Regions from separate parts of the Homo sapiens genome. Here region 1 is reported to be linked to region 2. Evidence: microRNA targets listed by miRTarBase, many of them from high-throughput screens and not tested one by one. Region 2 holds a microRNA gene; the other region holds the end of a gene's coding sequence.

Region 1 (10,674 bases), not on the chromosome of region 2:
AAGGCATCTGGAAAATTTGTCATAAAATCTTTATTAGTTAGAGTTCTCTAGAGAAACAGAACAAATAGGATGGATACATAGATAGATAAATTTATTATAAGAAATTGGCTCACACAATTATGGAAAGTGACAAGTCCCAAAATCTGCAGGGTGTAGTTCCAGTCTGAAGGCCTGAAACCCAGGAGAACCAGTGATGTGGTTCTAATCTGAAAGCTGGTAGCCTCAAGACCAAGGAATAGCCAATGTCTCAGGTTGAGTTCGAAGGCAAGAAAAAGCCAATGTCCCTGTTTGAAGGCAGTCAGGTAGAAGAAATTATCTTACTCAGGGGAGGGTTATCCTTTTTGTTCTATTAAGGCTTTCAACTACTTGGATGAGACTCACCCACATTAGGGAGGGCAATGTGCTTTACTCAGTCTACCTTTCCAAATGTTAGTCTCATTTAAAGTCACTGCCACAGACATATCCAGAACCAAATTTGTTTGACCAGATATCTGGGCACCCCATGGTCCAGTCAAGTTGTCACACGATAACACATTAGTCAACATAATATCATTGTGGACAAGACATAGAAATAAGAGCTAGATAAAAATACAGTCTAGAATTTGTGGACCATAACTGAGGAGTTTGTTAATGGACCAGTGTCAATCTGTCAGTCCATTTCAGTGTAATGCCTGTGTGTTTTAGCTAAATTTTACACTCTCTAACACTAGGTGCCTAAAAAAAGAAAAAGGCTTATTTATTTTATGTGAATATTCTTTCCATTAGGAAAGAGATGGCCTACAGGGAGATAGTGTTCATTGTTTTTCCTGTACTGAGGTTTGTCTATTCAGATTTCTATATTTCCCATTCTAGAGAAAGCTGTAGTAGAATGGGATCTTGGTGTCCTCCTCACAGAGTATATATGATTCAAACCCTTTACAACACTCCTTCCTATGGAAATGTGTATAGTTAAGTGACAAAAGGACAGAATAGTACAGTATCATTTGTTTAAAAATATAAACTTACAGCCAGGCCTGGTGGCTCACACCTGTAATCCCAGCACTTTGGGAGGCTGAGGCGGGCGGATCACCTGAGGTCGTGAGTTCGAGACCAGCCTGACCAACATGGTGAAACCCCGTCTCTACTAAAAATACAAAAATTAGCCACGCGTGGTGGCCAGTGCCTGTAGTCCCAGCTACACGGGAGGCTGAGGCAGGAGAATTGCTTGAACCTGGGAGGCGCAGGTTGCAGTGAGCCGAGATCGTGCCACTGCACTCTAGCCTGGGCAACAGAACGTGACTCTGTCTCAAAAAAAAAATTATATATATATATGTGTGTGTGTGTGTGTGTGTGTGTGTGTGTGTATATAATATATAAATTTATATATTTGTACAAGTGTAGAATATTGTGAGCCTTGCTGGCAGGGAATCTGGAAGGCAAAGGGGTGCTGAAGTGAGAAGTCATCACTATTTGGATTTCTTTTATGCAATATTCGTGAATTAACTTCTTATTCATTAGCATTACATAAAATAAAATGGAGAAACATTTTTGGAATTTCAGAAATTAGCATTTTATCAAATAAATAGTAGGCCGGGTGCGGTGGCTCACGCCTGCAATCCCAGCACTTTGGGAGGCCGAGGTGGGTGGATCACGAGGTCAGGAGATCGAGCCCATCCTGGCTAACACGCTGAAACCCCGTCTCTACTAAAAATACAAAAAATTAGCCGGGCGTGGTGGCGGGCGCCTGTAGTCCCAGCTACTCAGGAGGCTGAGGCAGGAGAATGGCGTGAACCCGGGAGGCGGAGCTTGCAGTGAGCGGAGATCGCGCCACTGCACTCCAGCCTGGGCGACAGAGCAAGACTCTGTCTCAAAAAAAATTAAAAAATAACAAAATAAATAGTAACAGAGAGAGAAAAAAGTAGGGAAGATAAAAGTAAAGAAAGGTGGGGAAAGAAGGGAGAGAAGAAGAAAAGGAAAGAAATGTAAAGGATGGGAGAGTGGGAGGGGGAAGGGAAAGGATGGAAAGAGGGAGAGAGAGAAAGAGAATGAATGAAAAGAATGAAGGGAGAGAGAAACAAAAAGGAAGGAAGGAAGGAATGAGAAAGAAAGAGGAAAGAAAGAAAGAGAGAGAGAAAGAAAGAGGAAAAAAGAAGAGGAAGGGAGAAGGAGGGGAGAAACACAATTTCCTAATTTCCATTGCCTCTTCCTCCTAGACTAGATCTAAAGCTAGTTTCTCATTTGTCCCTCTCATAATGCTACTTCAGAAGTTACTTCATAATGTTACTTCAGAAGTAACAGGTTTCTGTCTTTAGGTTATTTCGTCCCAGGACAGGGCGGAGGAATAGGAGTCTAATTAACTTCAACTTCTCCACAAACTCAGAAGTATAATTAATAACACCTCTCTTTTTTCTTTCTTCTTTCTTTCTTTCTTTTTTTCTTTCTTTCTTTCTTTCTTTCTTTCTTTCTTTCTTTCTTTCTTTCTTTCTTTCTTTCTTCTTCCTTCCTTTCCTCTTTTCTTCATTTCTTTCTTTTTTTTTTCTTTCCAGAATGGCTAAATTTCTGAAGCTGGACCTCCATTCTTCCATGGTGGCAGAAAATTTCATTTCAGTTATTCTTGGTTTCTTCAATCCTCCCCAGGGTTGGTTCACAGTCCTAGAATGTCATACAGTGCCAGTGAAGGGCAAGGCAGGAGATTGTGGATGATCTTCAAGCCATAGACTATTGGTCATCAGTGGACACAGGTTACTACAGGTTACCAAGAAGCTCATTATTCTGTCTGCATGGCACCTTCTGGTCCTCAAGTGTCTCCTGCTTCTAGATTACAGAAGGAACCCAGTAATTTTTCAGGGTTTCCTATGATCCCATTCTCCACAGGTTGGTCCTCTCTGAATCCATGCCACCTCCGCAGAGGGAGGGGTGGGAGTCACAGCAGACTGTCAGTTCCAGGTTCCTGATTTTCTAGGACCCACAGGCCATGTTTTCTTCCTACAACCACCCAATTTACCTTACTTAAGAAAATAGTCTTGGCCGGGCGTGGTGGCTCACGTCCATAATCCTACCACTTTGGGAGGCCGAGGCGGGTGGATCGCCTGAGGCCAAGAGTTAGAGACCAGCCTGGCCAACATAGGGAAACCCTGTCTCGACTAAAAATTCAAAACATTAGTTAGCCGTGGTGGCACACACCTGTAATCCTGGCTACTTGGGAGACTGAGGCAAAAGAATCGCTTGAACCCGGGAGTCAGAGGTTGCTGTGAGCTGAGATCGCACCATTGCCCTCCAGCCTGGGCAACTAAAATGAGCAAGAGATAGAGTGAATTAAAGTATACAGAAAAAATATATATAGTGTTAGATGACAGGAGACAAAAAGAGAAGCAAACTATTTTATATATAAACAAACATGGATTTATCCATCTTAAATAAAGAGAATTAGTGCTAGAGAGGCAAAGTTCTGACAATTAAGAGTCACAAATGCTTTTGCTACTGTCTGTGTTGGAAAGAATAATTCTACCTTCCCCCTTTGCAAATGTCTACGTCCTAATCCGCGGAGCCTGTGAAACTGTTAACTTACATGGCAAAAGGGACTTTGCAAGTATGACTAAATGAAGCATCTTGAGATGGGAAACTTATCCTCAATTATTCGGGTGAGCCCAGTTGTAATTACAAGGGTCCTTATAAAAGGTAGGCAGAAGAATCAGAGTCAGAGAAGGAGATGTGAGGATGGAAGCAGAGATCAAAGTCCAGAGCCAAGGAATGCTGCCAGCCTCTGGAAGCTGGAAAGAGCAAGGAAACTCACTTATTCCTAGAGACTCCAGAAGGAAGGCAGCCCTGCCCATAACTTCATTTTAGCCCAGTGAGAATGACTTTGAACCTCTGATCTCTGGAAATGTAAGATAATAAACTTTTGTTGTTTCAAGCCACTAAACTCTATTAATTTGTCACAATAGCAATTTAAAAACCGAATATCCTGCCTATTCATACACTCATTCAGTTCCAGTTACAGCCATCGACTTGCAGTTTCCTGTTGCACCAAACCCTCTCATACTTCTACCTGAACGCTTCTCCTACCCATTTGCTTAGATCTGATCTTGTTCTTCAAGAGTTATTTAAACCATCACTTCCCCCCTTGGAAGCTTTTCTTACATTGGGCTCCCCAACTGTCTAGAACTCCCTACCATGTCTCCTTTTCAGCACTCACTACACTTGAGTTGCAATAATTGATCATCTTATTCCTGTTTGTATCACTTTGCCAAGTTCTTGCCTAATAAATGGCTTTGTTACTTCTTCCTTAGTTATCTTCCAGGTCTCCATGACAATATGGTAAGTTTTCAGAGAGCAGGGCCTACTCCTGTGTGTGTATACACACGTATGTCTTCCCTCCATATGCTTAATACACAGTGCTCCAACTCAAAAGTCAAAACAAAGCAAAACAAAAACACAACATCAAATAAATATTCATTGAAAAAAACTGATGCAGCCTACTTTGTAACAAATTATATCTTGGGAATCAACGGAAAATAACCATGCATTCTATTGTACCATTTATTAACCTGCTGTAATAAATTAGGCTCATTTATTTAGTTAGTTTATGCCTTGAGAAAACCTCAATAGCATTTTTTTTCTAGTCAGAATTATCTGGTTTTCATATTGATGGTCTTTTACTTCAATCACCAAATGCAGTAGCCAACATGACCAAAACATATTTATCCATTTAACAAATATGAAATGGTTGCCTACTGTGTGCAAGTAATGTTTAGGATGTGGAAAAGCATGTGGATAAATCAAAGTTCATGTTCTGGGCAGGAAGACATACAAATAAATAGTATATCAAGCAAAACACTAAAAAGGAAAGATGAGATAACATAAGAAATTAATGAGTTGACTCCACTCAGAGCAGAAAAAAAATCTTTAGTGAGACAAATAGAGTGGTGAACAGAAAAAGCAGGTGATAGTGGTTAAGAACCAGGGCTTTCAAGTTAAATAAAACTGAACTCAAAGCCAATTCCACTATTTACTGTGTGCCCTTGGACAAATTATTTAATTTCCCTGAGCCCAGCAGGCTCATCTGTAAAATGGGGATAATAATAGACATTCCACCTCATAAGATTATTATAAGAATTATGTAAGATAATTCTTGTAAAATTCTTAACATGGTGCTAGACACAGAGCAAGCAATTAGTATATTGCATTTATTATTGTGATAGTTTTGAAACAGTGAATAACATTTCTAATAATTATTTCAAAACCAGATTTCCTTACACAATAGCATATATTGTGAAAAAACATATATCCAAAATATATATATATATCCATTCACTCTACAAATACAAATACTGCTAAATGCAGAGGATTGCTCCACCCAGATTGCTCTTTCGGGGTGAGGAGCTCATTCCCCCAGTAGCTGCTTGGAATTTGGCTGCTGAAGACACAGTCGATTCCTACTTTGGGGATTGCCCTCCTCCACTGAACTGCCTAGGCTAAGGTTACACTCCGCTCCTGGTAGATGCTGGAGTATAAAAGCTGACCCTCTTGTTTCCATTTGTAACCATTTTGAAGGGTCACCCTAGCTCCAGGGGCTCCCTGTGAGATGGGCGGAAGCCTCTGTGGAAATCTCTTCTGCTTCCTTCACTCCATCACAGACATTGTTCCCAAGACCACTCCTCAAGGAACTTACCAATCTCCATCTCAGAGTCTGCCTTCCCAGCGAACCTGAATTAAGCCAAGTAACCACTATATGGACAACGCACTACTGTTAGGCAGGGTTGGCAAGCTTCTTCTGTCAAGGACCAGGCAGTAAGGGTTTTAGGCTTTGGTGAGCCATATTCTCTATCACTTTTACTCAACTCTGCCATTCTAGTGTGAAAGCAGCCAGAGACAACACATAAACAAATGGGCACTGCTGTGTTCCAATAAAACTTTATTTTATGGACACTGAATTTGAATTTTATATAATTTTCACCCATCACAAAATACTGTTCTTATTTTGCTTTTTTTTTTTCAACCATTTAAATATTGGAAAAATCATTCTTTGCTCGTGGGAGTTCAAAAGCAGGCAGCAGGCTAGATCTGGTCAATGGGCCATAGTTTGACAATCCCTGAGCCAGAGGAAAGATGCGATGCAGAGCAGTGAAGCTACTATTCTAGTGAATGAGTTTACAGAATTTGATATCATGGGACCCTACAGCTTGTAACCTTGTTCCAAGGACATGGAAGACCCCTTCCTGGCTCCAGGTCAAGAGGGCATGGAGAAAAGGAAGAGGTAAAAAAAGGGAAACAATAAGATTCATAATTTCTTTCTTTCTTTTTTTTTGAGACGGAGTTTCGCTCTTGTCGCCCAGGCTGGAGTGCAATGGTGCAATCTTGGCTCACTGCAACCTCCACCTCCTGGGTTCAAGCAATTCTCCTGCCTCAGCCTCCCAAGCAGATGGGATTACAGGCGCCTGCCACCATGCCCGGTTAATTTTTGTATTTTTAGTAGAGACAGGGTTTCGCCACGTTGGCCAGGCTGGTCTCAAACACCTGACCTCAGGTGATCCACCCACCTCGGCCTCCCAAAGTGCTGGGGTTACAGGCATGAGCCACCGCACCTGGTCTCATAATTTCTTTTGAAGCTTAGTACCAAGAAAATCAAACACAGCAAAATAACACTAAATGGTTTAGTGCTATGTGGTGTTTTTCATTTAGACAACTTCATCTCTACCAGGAAACAGATGTAGGAGATTTGAGTGGCTGTTTTGTGGCTGTGTCTGTAACTAAGAAACCATTCAAAAATAAAAACACAATTATAATTTGTTACAGTTTTAATATTTACAAACAATATACCTTTAAATGATCTGATACAGAATAGACAAAGGAGAGATAAACATATTTTGAAAACTGTTTGACCCTATCTTTCTACCCAAATATAGCAGCCTTCTACAGTCCATCTCCTTCAAAAAGAAACAAGTTGGATGAATTTATTTGGGTAACAAATATATTCTTAACTCTTTACCCTGAAACCTTTTGACTTTTTTTTTTTTTTTGAGACGGGAGTCTCACTCTTGTTGCCCAGGCTGGAGTGCAATGGAGCGACCTCGGCTCACTGCAACCTCTGCCTCTCAGGTTCAAGAGATTCTCCTGCCTCAGCCTCCCTAGTAGCTGGGATTACAGGTACCCACCACCATGTCCAGCTAATTTTTTGTATTTTTAGTAGAGATGGGGTTTCACCATATTGGCCAGGCCGGTCTCGAATTCCTGACGTCAGGTAATCCACCCACATCAGCCTCCGAAATGCTGGGATTACAGGCGTGAGCCACTACACCCGGCCACCTTTTGGCCTTTTTGTTTCATCTCATTTGACTGTCTTCTTTTTTAATTCCTATGTTTCTTCAAATGAATTAACCGTTTCTTTTTTGATCATTTTTATTTTTGCTTCCTTGCTGTACACACCTCTCTTTGAAATCATTCCTTATGGCTCCTCTTACCATATTCCTTCATCAAGTGTAATATTATGAGATTTCTCCATGATTCACACATGACTTCCAGCTGATCTTTACTTCTCTAGCCCTTAATTCCCCTTCACTAACCCCTCCTGCACATTCTCAGAATAAATGGATAAAGTGTTGCTTCATGTTTAAGTAAATGCGAGACAGTAATGGAAGCATCCTCTCTATGGATTTACATTGCTATACTGAGAAATATGGAGACTAGGAGTGCTAATTTCAGTAATTTCAGTTGACATCAATTGCAATAGGCGGCTAAAGACTATATCTCTGGCTTTTGAGGTCTCCAGATTCTTCTCTCTAGACACTTGAAGACTGATTTGGTCTACACTTGTCATGATGAGTTCAGACGCCAGAATCTGGGTAGGAGAACTGTCATGAAACACGGTGTCCATAATGTACTGTTTATATAACTCCACAACCTTCTGCTCCAGGTACTCATTCAGAACTGCATTAGAAATAGGATTCTGCATTTGCAAGCTGCTTTTCTCTTTGATGCTTGTTATTCTCCAATAGGATGAGTACCGCTGGATAGGTTTTTGGGGAAAGTCACTGGGCTGAGTAGAAATGGAATCCTCCATGGGTAAAGGAATCTCAGATGACTTCAGCAAAGGGCCATATTCAAAACTGCTCTCAGAGGGAAAATCTGTTGTCACTGAATTAATGGCCATCACCTGGCCCCCTGCAATCTGTAAGTCATTATAATTCTTGCAAATACTTTTGCAAGAAGATGGAACCAAGTAGGTCTCTCTGCTGGCATCTCTACATATTTCAACTGCAGCCAAGTTTGGGCTTTCAAACACAGGATTGGGGTTTGTCTGCAGCACTGTGACTCTCTGACTTCTGCTATGTTGGCTCTCTCTTGAATGCACTGAAGAGATAAACTTGCCAGATGATTTGCAGCTCACGTAGAGACTTCTGACTTGTGTTTCATCCACAGAGGAATAGGAAAGGGTAGCAACAGAATTTGTCTCCTCTTCCTTTTCCCCAGCCACCTGCTCATTATAAGAGGCACAACTCCAGTGGATGTCATTCCAGTACTCAAGTCCACTGAGATACCCTTCTGACAGCATTCTGGAAAGAGAATTGATGAGTAAGAATGGGGAAAAAGAATACTGAAATTTTAGAAGTTGGCACTTGATATATCAAAAAATAAGGACAATGAATAAATTCACTTTATTCATTCACCAAGCTCGTACTAATTCTGTGCCTACTGTGTACCAGGACTATGGCATGTGCTAAGGATATAAAAATGAAAAGCACACAATTCCATCCTTCAGGAAGTTTCCCACTATAGGAAAAAATCAACTAGATATAAACAATTCCAACATTGTATCACTGAGGATTATAATAGTGATAGGTAAAAAGGAAGTACAGGGGTGGGGGGGTCCCTAACTTAGCCTGGGGCAAAGGGGGAGAAGTCACAGGATGTGTCATAGGGAAGGTGATATTTCAGCTGAATGCTAAAGAGTAATTAGGAGTTCCAGCCATAGGAACAGGCTTATAAGATAATATGGTGGCATGACCTACTCACCACATACAAAGAAGCTGAGCACAAGCAGAAGGAATTGGGAAAATAGGCTGAAATTGGATCGTGAAGAGCCTTGGCAGTCAGGCAAAAGCATTTACATTCTGCCCCGTAGGAAATGAACAGTGATCTAGAAGTTGCAGATTGGAGAGAAACATGGCTAGTGGATTATGAGCAAAACAATGAGAAAATCTGTGGCAAATTCTACTGAAAACAAGTGCTGTGTCTTACTTAACTTTGTATTGGATCCCTAGGAGCTAGCACAGTTACTTGCATTTCTACAGAGACTCAAAAGGTATTTGTTAATTTGAGTTAAAGAATTTTCAACAATGACATGGTATGAAATTAATTTGTGCTCAACACATCATGAAGTACCACAAAGCCTACCCTGCCTTTGTATCCCAGAATAAATTTCCTTCTCTCTCCCTCCCAGTTCTCAGAATACATCCTGAAAATGTCTCTGTATCTAACTGATGTGTTTACCTCCTAGTTACCAAGGAGCTTTTCTGACCATAGACTTTCCCCACATCTGCCTCCCCTCCCTACCCCCAGCAATTGTCACTGGTCTAGAGTGGCTAGAACAGGCTAGAAACCAGCAGCTGCATTTTCTAAAAACAGAACACACTGGCATTCCCGGCACTGGGGCAAAAGGCAACAGCAAGGAAAACTGGTCCTCTTGGGCCTCGAGAGCTGGGCTTCTGAAACAGACCTGTCAACTTGAGCCTGAACTTGTAATGTCAAATAAGAAAAGAAGGATTTTTTTAACCATACATAAAGGTCCTTTTAAAAATTGTTAACATCTCTTTTACATTCATGTAATTATTGTTTCCCAGGTAAATAAAATGTTTCCCTTTTTTAAAAATTGTATAAGGGTAAGATAGTAATTTTTTTTTTCTCTTTTGGAACTATTCCTGGTTTATTTAGCAAATCTCAATTTTTTTAATGTTTACTATATTCTGGGCACAGTTATGTGCCATGAAGACACTAAGCTAAAGGTCTTCAACAAATCCATGAAGTAATTTCTGTATGCTGAACACACTTATAAGGATTAAAAAAAAAAAAAAAGTTGTCCTCTCCTTTAAAATCTATGTGAAGTTCTGCCCTCAAACCTAATATGCAGGTGAAAAGGCCAATCTTACCTACACGGAAAGATAAGAAACAGAGAAAGAGTTTATCATAAAGAACTAATGGGGATGCACTTACTTCCTGGCCCTCAACACCCTACCCCCACCTAGGCTTTAGCTAGGGCATTCTGCCTTCAAGTCCTCAGAATATCATTGTGGAAAATCAGAGCATAAATGATCGTTGACTTTTGAGTATCTAAATGGGCTTTAGAAACTCCTGGCAGAAATAATCGTTTGGGAGAAATGACTTTTGAGAAACCATAACCTGAGCTTTTACACCTCAGAATCCAGAACCATGAAGGACTTAAGGCATAATATTTATGCACTAATAATAAACTTAAGTAGACTGAGTCCCCCATGGAGGGAAAAAGTATGTCTCCAGAGAGATTTGGGAGCCAAGAGTAGACAGGTTTGCAAAATTATCTCATGCCCGGCATGGTGCAGGAGCAGAAGGAGAGACAGCCACACAGATCACCTGGGCGGGCCAGCATGAGGCTGCCTCATCAAGTCTGCTCACACATCAGCATGCTGCTGAGAGCCTCAAATCCTGGAGAAGACCTACAGT
Region 2 (7,000 bases):
CATAATATACTCAGTTAACAAACCTGCATACAACCCTCCTGAATCTAAAAAGTCAAAAAAGAAAAAAAATGCAACTACATTAATATTAGACAAAGTAGATCTTATAGCAAAAGCACTCCCGGAGACACTGAAAGTATCCACCTAATGATAAATGCACCAGAAAGATATAACGACTAAATTTGTACATACCTACAATCATTAGGACAAACAAGGCAAATTATTAGGACAATTTGAACAAATAGGTTAATAGTATTAAAGTCTTTAAAATCCTTATTGATATTCTGTCTACTAATTAAAAAATATTAATTACTTTTTATTGGCATAAAATGACTACTAATTTTTTAACAGACTTTTTTTCAAAGCAGTTTTAGATTCAGAGCAAACTGAGTGGAAAGTACAGAGTTCTCATATGTGCTTTTCCCCTACTATCAAAATCTCACACCATGGATAAATCTATGCTGACATATCATTATCACCCAATGTCCATAGTTTACATTAGGGTTCACTCTTGTTACTCTGTATTCTTGGGTTTTGACAAATTTTTAATGACATGTACCCACCTTTATAGTACTGTCGTCCCTTGGTACCCTTGGGGGACTGGTTCCAGGATCCCTCAAGGACACCAAAATCTGAGGCTGCTCAAGTTCCTTATATAAAATGGTGTAGTATTTGCATATAATACACATATCCTCCTGTATACTTTAAATAATCTCTAGATTACTTACACCTAATACACTGTATAGGCTATGTAAGTAGTTGTTATACTGTATCATTTAGGGGACAATGACAAGAAAAAAAAGTCTGCATATGTTCAGCACAAAAGCTACATAGGCCAAACTACATTTTTCGCTCATGGTTGGTTGAATCCACAGATGCAGAACCTGTGATATAAAGGGCTGACTATACTGTATCAGAAGAGTTTCACTGCCCTAAGAATCCTCTGTGTTCCACCTATTCATCCCTCTCCGCCCCAAATTCACTATTCTTTTATAGCTTGCATAGTTTTGCCCTTTCTAGAATGTCATAGAGTTGAAATCATACATATGCCATCTCAGGTTGGCTTATTTCATTTAGTTATATATTATATGCATTTAAGGTTCTTCCATGTATTTTCATGGCTTGATGGCTCATTTCTTTTTGGTGTTGAATAATATTCCATTGTCTGAATATACCATAGTTTTTTTTCCATTCACCTATTGAAGAACATGTTGGTTGCTTCTAAGTTTTGGCAATTATGAATAAAGCTCCTATACATATCTGCGTGCAGGTTTTTGTGTGGACATAGATTTTCATCTTATTTGGGTAAATACCAAGGGGCACGATTGCTGGGTTGTATGGCAACAGTATGTTAAGTTTTAAAAGAAACTGCCAAAGTGTCTTCCAAAGTGGCTGTACCATTTTGCATTCCCACCAGCACCGAATGAGACTTACAGTTGCTCCACACACTCACCAGCACTGGGTGTTGTCAGTGTTTTGGGTTTTAGACATTTGGTAGGTATGTAGAGGCATCTCATTTTAATTTGTAATCTGTCTACTATTTTTGAAACTAATATTTAGGATTGAAGTGTTGAAATTTTGGATGACAATTGTGGATTTGTCTATTTCTTTTTGCAGTTTTTGAAAACAAGTTTACCAATTATTTTTGGTAATGTCTAATCTGCTATTCATCCCTTGTCATGTATTTTTTCTCTCTCACATTGTAGTTTTCATCTTTAAAAGTTTGATTTGGGTTTTTAAAAATATCTTCTATGTTTCTACATTACATGGTTAATCCTTCTTCTCACTTCTTGAACATATAGAATATAGGTATAATGATTTTTAAACACCTACTTTATTAGTATATCAGCACTGTCATTTCTGAACTGGTTTCAATAAACTGATTTTTCCCATTATGGGTCAACTTTTCCTGTTTCTTTGTGTACCTGGTAAATTTACATTGGATCCTAAAACATTTGTTGGGTTATCTGAGACACTGTCAAGTTATTGTACGCAGTTTAATTCTTTCAGAAAGGCTTGCTTTTAAGCTTTATTAAATGGGATCACAGCAGCCTTTAGCCTAGGGCTAATTATTTTCCTCTACTGAGCTAATGCTCTTCTGAGTACTCTACCAGATGCCCTGTGAATTGTAAGGTTTTCCACTCTGACTGGTGGAACACAAACTCTTCCTGGTCTTTTTTAAGCTCCAGAGACCTGTTTTTTTTGTTTTGTTTTGCTTTGTTTTCCCCTTTGTCCTTTAGGTTAGTTCTTTTCCCAGTCTCAAGTATTAATAGTTTACTTACATACATGTGCTATCCAGTACTCAGTGGAAGACTTCACATCTCTGGAAGGGTTCCTCTGGGCTAGCTCTCACCTCTCTGTACTCTGCCCTAGGAACACTAGTCTCTTTGGTGTCCTCAGATTTCCAGCTGTATCTTTTCAACTTATGGAGACTGCTGGACTCTGCCTGTGTTCCCCTCACTGCAACTCCCTTGAGGGAGTAAGCAGGTCAATCACAGGTCTCTCCGGGCATTTGATTTGCATCCCCTTTCAGGGATCACTGGCCTGGACTGCTCTTTGTTTAATGTTTGGAAAATGCTTCAGATATATGTTGCTCTATTTTTAAGTTGTTTCAGGTGGGAAGGTATACGTAGTCCCTATTACTCCATGTTGGCTGGGAGTCAGATTTGATAAGTTTTGTCATAATACTGGTGTAATGGCTGAATGATTCTCTAGGAAGCGACCATGATGTAACTTCACAGACTCTCCAAAAGTCTGAAGTTACATCATGGTCGCTTCCTAGAGTATCATTCTACTTCATGGAGCCACTCTGGTTACTAGTTGTCAAACTAGTAGGAATGTTGTTATGGCAATACAGGGAAGGTGATCTCCACAAAACCATGCTCATTTTCTTGGCCTTCAGGTGATATACTGTATGCAGAATGTAAAAAATAGGTCAGTTAGTGACATCTGTACTTAGGCCAAGGACCCAGGATGGCAGCCATATGTTTGCTACTACCATTGTAGGTTTCTACTAAGAAACAATCACAATATTTGCCAAGACTTAGCACTGATCACCCTGCATTTCCTAAACATTTGGGTGGTAGACACTGTGGCTTGAGGAAGGCATTCATTACCCTGAGCTCATGCTCATGGTTTTCAGTTTAGATACCCTTGGAATTTCCCACAGCTTGTCTTAGGTTGTGAAGCAGACTTCTAAGAATCTGGATATCAACAAATTACAGTCATATGTCACTTAGCGACAAGGATACATTCTGAGAAATGTGATGTTACATGATTTTGTTGTCATACATCATAAAGTGTACTTACACGAACCTAGATGGGACAACCTACTATACACCTAGGCTATATGGTAGAGCCTATTGCTCCTAGGCTACAAACCTGTACAGCCCATGACTGTACTGAAAACTGTAGGCAACTGGAACAGAATGGTATTTGTGTATCTAAACATATCTAAAGCCAGGTGTGGGGGCTCATGCCTGTAATCCTAGCACTTTGTGAGGCTGAGGTGGGTGAATCACTTGAGCTCAGGAGTTTGAGACCTGCCTGGGCAACATAGTGAAATCCTGTCTCTACAAAAAAAATATAAAAATCAGCTGGGCATGGTGGCACGGGTCTGTAGTCCCAGCTACTCGGGAGGCTGAGGTGTGAGATTGGCTCGAGCCCAGGAAGCGGAGGTTGCAGTGAGCTGAGATGGTGCCACTGCACTCCAGCCTGGGTGGCAGAGCCAGACCCTGTCTCTAAATAAATAAATAAATAAATAATAAACATATCTACACATAGGAAAGGTATGGTAAGAATATGGTCTAAAATAATTTAAAAAATGGTACACTATCTAGGGTACTTACCATGAATGGAGCTTGGAAGACTGGAAGTCACTCCGGTGAGTCAGTGAGTGAGTGTGAAGGCCTAGGACATTACTATACACTACTGTAAATTTTATAAACACTGTACACTAAGAGTCTACTAAATTTATAAAAAAGTTTTTTTATTTCTTCAATAATGAATTAACCTTAGCTTACTGTAATTTAACTTTATATACTTTTTATTTTTTAAAAAATTTTGACTCTTTTGTAATAGCATTCCTCTTTTTTTTCTTTGTCTAAAGGCTTCTTGATTTTTTTAATCGTTTCAGAAAACTTTTCATTTCATTCCTCTTTTCTATAGTTTTTTTGGTTTCTATTCTGATCTTTATTATTTCTTTTTTTCCACTAATTTTGGGTTTGGTTTGCTGTTGCTTTTCTAGTTCTTTACGATGTATTATTAGGTTGTTTATATGAAGTTTTTCTACTTGTTGATGTAGGTGTTTATTGCTGTAAACTTCCCTCTTAGTACTGCTTTTGCTGTATCCCATAGGTTTTGGTGTGCTGTGTTTTCATCTTCATTTGTTTCAAGAATTTAAAAAAATTCCTTCTTAATAACACTTGGCTTAAAACACAAATACATTGTACAGTTGTACAAAAATATTTTCTTTCTTTATAGCGTAATTTTGTAAGCTTTTTTCTATTTTTATTTTTTAACTTTTCAAACATTTTTGTTAAAAACTGAGACAAACACGCATTAGCCTAGGCCTTCATTGGGTCTGGATCATCAATATCACTGTCTTCCCCCTCCATATCTTGTCCCACTGGAAGGTCTTCATGGGTAATAACACTCATGATAAGAATGCCTTCTTCTGAAATACCTCCTGAAGGAACCACCTCAGGCTGTTGCGCAGTTAATGTTTGTTTAAATAGATAGAAGGCATGTACTCTAAAACAATGATAAAAAGTATAGTATAGTAAATACATAAACCAGTAATATAGTTGTATATGAAAGTATTATGTACTGTACTGTACATAATTGTATGTGCTTTTTTTTTTTTTTTTTTTTTTGGAGATAGAGTCTCTCTGCACTCTGGGCATGGTGGTGCATACCTGTAGTCCTAGCTACTCAGTGCAACCTCCGCCTCCCGGGTTTAAGCGATTCTTCTGTCTCAGCCTCCCGAGTTGCTGGGATTACAGGCGTGCACCACCACACACAGCTAATTTTATATTTTTAGTAGAGATGGGGTTTCACCATGTTGGGCAGGCTGGTCTCGAACTCCTGACCTCAGGTGATCCACCCACCTTGGCCTCCCAAAGTGCTGGGATTATAGGCTTGAGCCACCGCGCCCAGCCTGTGCTGTATTTTTATATGACTGGAAGTGCAGTAGGTTTGTTTATACCAGCATCACCACAAACATTATGAGTAATGCGTTATGCTATGATGCTGTGACGTCTCTAGGCAATAAGAGATTTTCAGCTCCATTATAATTTTATGGGACCATCATGGTATATGCAATTTGTCACTGACAAAAAAGTCATTATGTGGTACATGACTGTACTTTCTTTGGTCAAATGGTCAGACAGAAAGATTGAGTCAAATGCTTGCAGGGTCTTTCAGGTTTTTTCTTTTCTTTTTTTTTTTTTGAGACAGAGTCTCGCTCTGTTACCCAGGCTGGAGTACAGTGCTGCAATCATTGCTCACTGCAACCTTGAACTTCTGGGCTCAAGTGAGCCTCCTGCCTCAGCCTCCTGAGTAGCTAGGACTACAGGTATGCACCACCATGCCCAGCTAATTTTTTATGTTTTAGTTGAGACAAGGTCTTGCTATGTTCCTTACTCTGGTCTTAAACTCCTGGCCTCAAGCAATCCTCCCACCTTGGTTTCGGCCTCCTATAGGGCTGGGATTACAGGCATGAGCCACAGTGCCTGGCCTCTCAGGTATTTTCTGAGGTTCCAACAAGATGACTGGGTTAGCAGTCTATGGCCACTTATCCCTTAATCCTTCAATGCCTCTCCTTTGCAGTTTAGGGTATTCATCTCTGTATGTAACATCACCTTGAATGTTTTACCATTCCTTCCTATCATAGATTTGTTCTGGTTGGCAAAGGAGACCAAGGTATGCCTGTGAGAATTGAAATAAATTTCATCACTGAGCAAGTTAGTTACTTTAACCTTCTAGAATCACCAAATACCTTAAATTCCCATTAAAAAGATAACAGCGGCAAATCTGTTGTGATCTGGGTTCTTATGATCCCTGGGGTTTTAGTTTCTCCTCCATACTGGCTGTGTAAGGAAGGCTTTTCATCTCAGGAAACACTGACAGTGAGTGGACCTGAGGCAAGAGCAGGAGGAAAGCTGCAAGGGGTATAGGTGTGTGTATGTGAGTATGTGTGTGTTTCTCAGCTGTAGAATTCTGAGAGGCAGTCAAAACTGCCAACCTTCCTTTGTAGGACTAACTTTAGGCCAAGAGAGATTGGCTGAGTGAATCCTTTGATGACAGCTGCTGCAACACCTTGATGGAGGTTTCTCTTGTCCCTGGCCACCAGACTTCACAGGGATTGCGCCAGTCTGTCTGACCATAATGCTACTACTGTACCAAGAGTGCCTAAATATTCATTTCTTAAATGTTTTTCAGCTTTACCATGTGCAAGGCCCTATACTAACCCTGAGACCAGCTAATTAAAGAGTTACTCTTCCTGACTCTTACCTCCTTATAACTGATGCTATTGACTGTTATTTTTATATGGCACCATCACGCCCTTCCCCCCAGACAATTATAAAGCTAGAGAATAAAAGCACAAAACAGAAAACGGCTGGGAAAATGGGTTGTGGATTACATCAGTCACAGAACGTCTTAGCAAACAGGTGGAGAGAAATCTCCCAAGTAATCTTTGAAAACCTGCAGAACAGTAGGGCCCAGAGAGGGGGCCATGTCTGATCCACCACCTTTACTGGTAATGAGTTTCCCTGGAACACATCCATGCTCATTTGTTTACAAATTGTTGTTGGGGAAAAGGCTTATGGAGTGCCTGCATAAACTGGCCATAAAAATATGGGACAATAAGTTGTGGAAAGCCACAAGAGGTCTCTGAGGAGGAAAGCCTTCTTATCGCCGTTATGTTCCCATGCTCTGAGTGCAACCTGCTCTCTTATCTATAAACACTGTGCTCAAGGAGAAAGACACTCCTCTGAAACAC

Evidence for each region. The annotated mature microRNA hsa-miR-4670-5p reads AAGCGACCAUGAUGUAACUUCA and lies in region 2 at 2,714-2,735, shown strand. An mRNA with a match to its seed (bases 2 to 7 or 8) in the 3' UTR can be bound and repressed. Matches are read on the target gene's strand: a 7mer-m8 pairs with bases 2 to 8, a 7mer-A1 pairs with bases 2 to 7 and ends in A, and an 8mer does both.
Region 1: the mRNA of TASL is a reported target of hsa-miR-4670-5p. Seed matches in the 3' UTR shown: 7mer-m8 at 7,043-7,049.

What each region holds. Positions count from the first base shown.
Region 1 is chrX:30,551,826-30,562,499 of GRCh38, forward strand. It overlaps TASL (TLR adaptor interacting with endolysosomal SLC15A4), which reads right to left. Exons shown (of 3, transcript NM_025159.3): 3 at 6,984-8,531. The coding sequence starts at 8,530. The coding sequence ends at 7,625. Among named protein-coding and RNA genes, the nearest start is that of TASL, 21 kb to the right of the region's middle.
Region 2 is chr9:92,523,765-92,530,764 of GRCh38, reverse strand. It overlaps MIR4670 (microRNA 4670), which reads left to right and starts at 2,707; the gene lies at 2,707-2,781. All of the region lies in intron 5 of CENPP (centromere protein P), which reads right to left. The region is part of intron 1 of ECM2 (extracellular matrix protein 2); the gene reads left to right.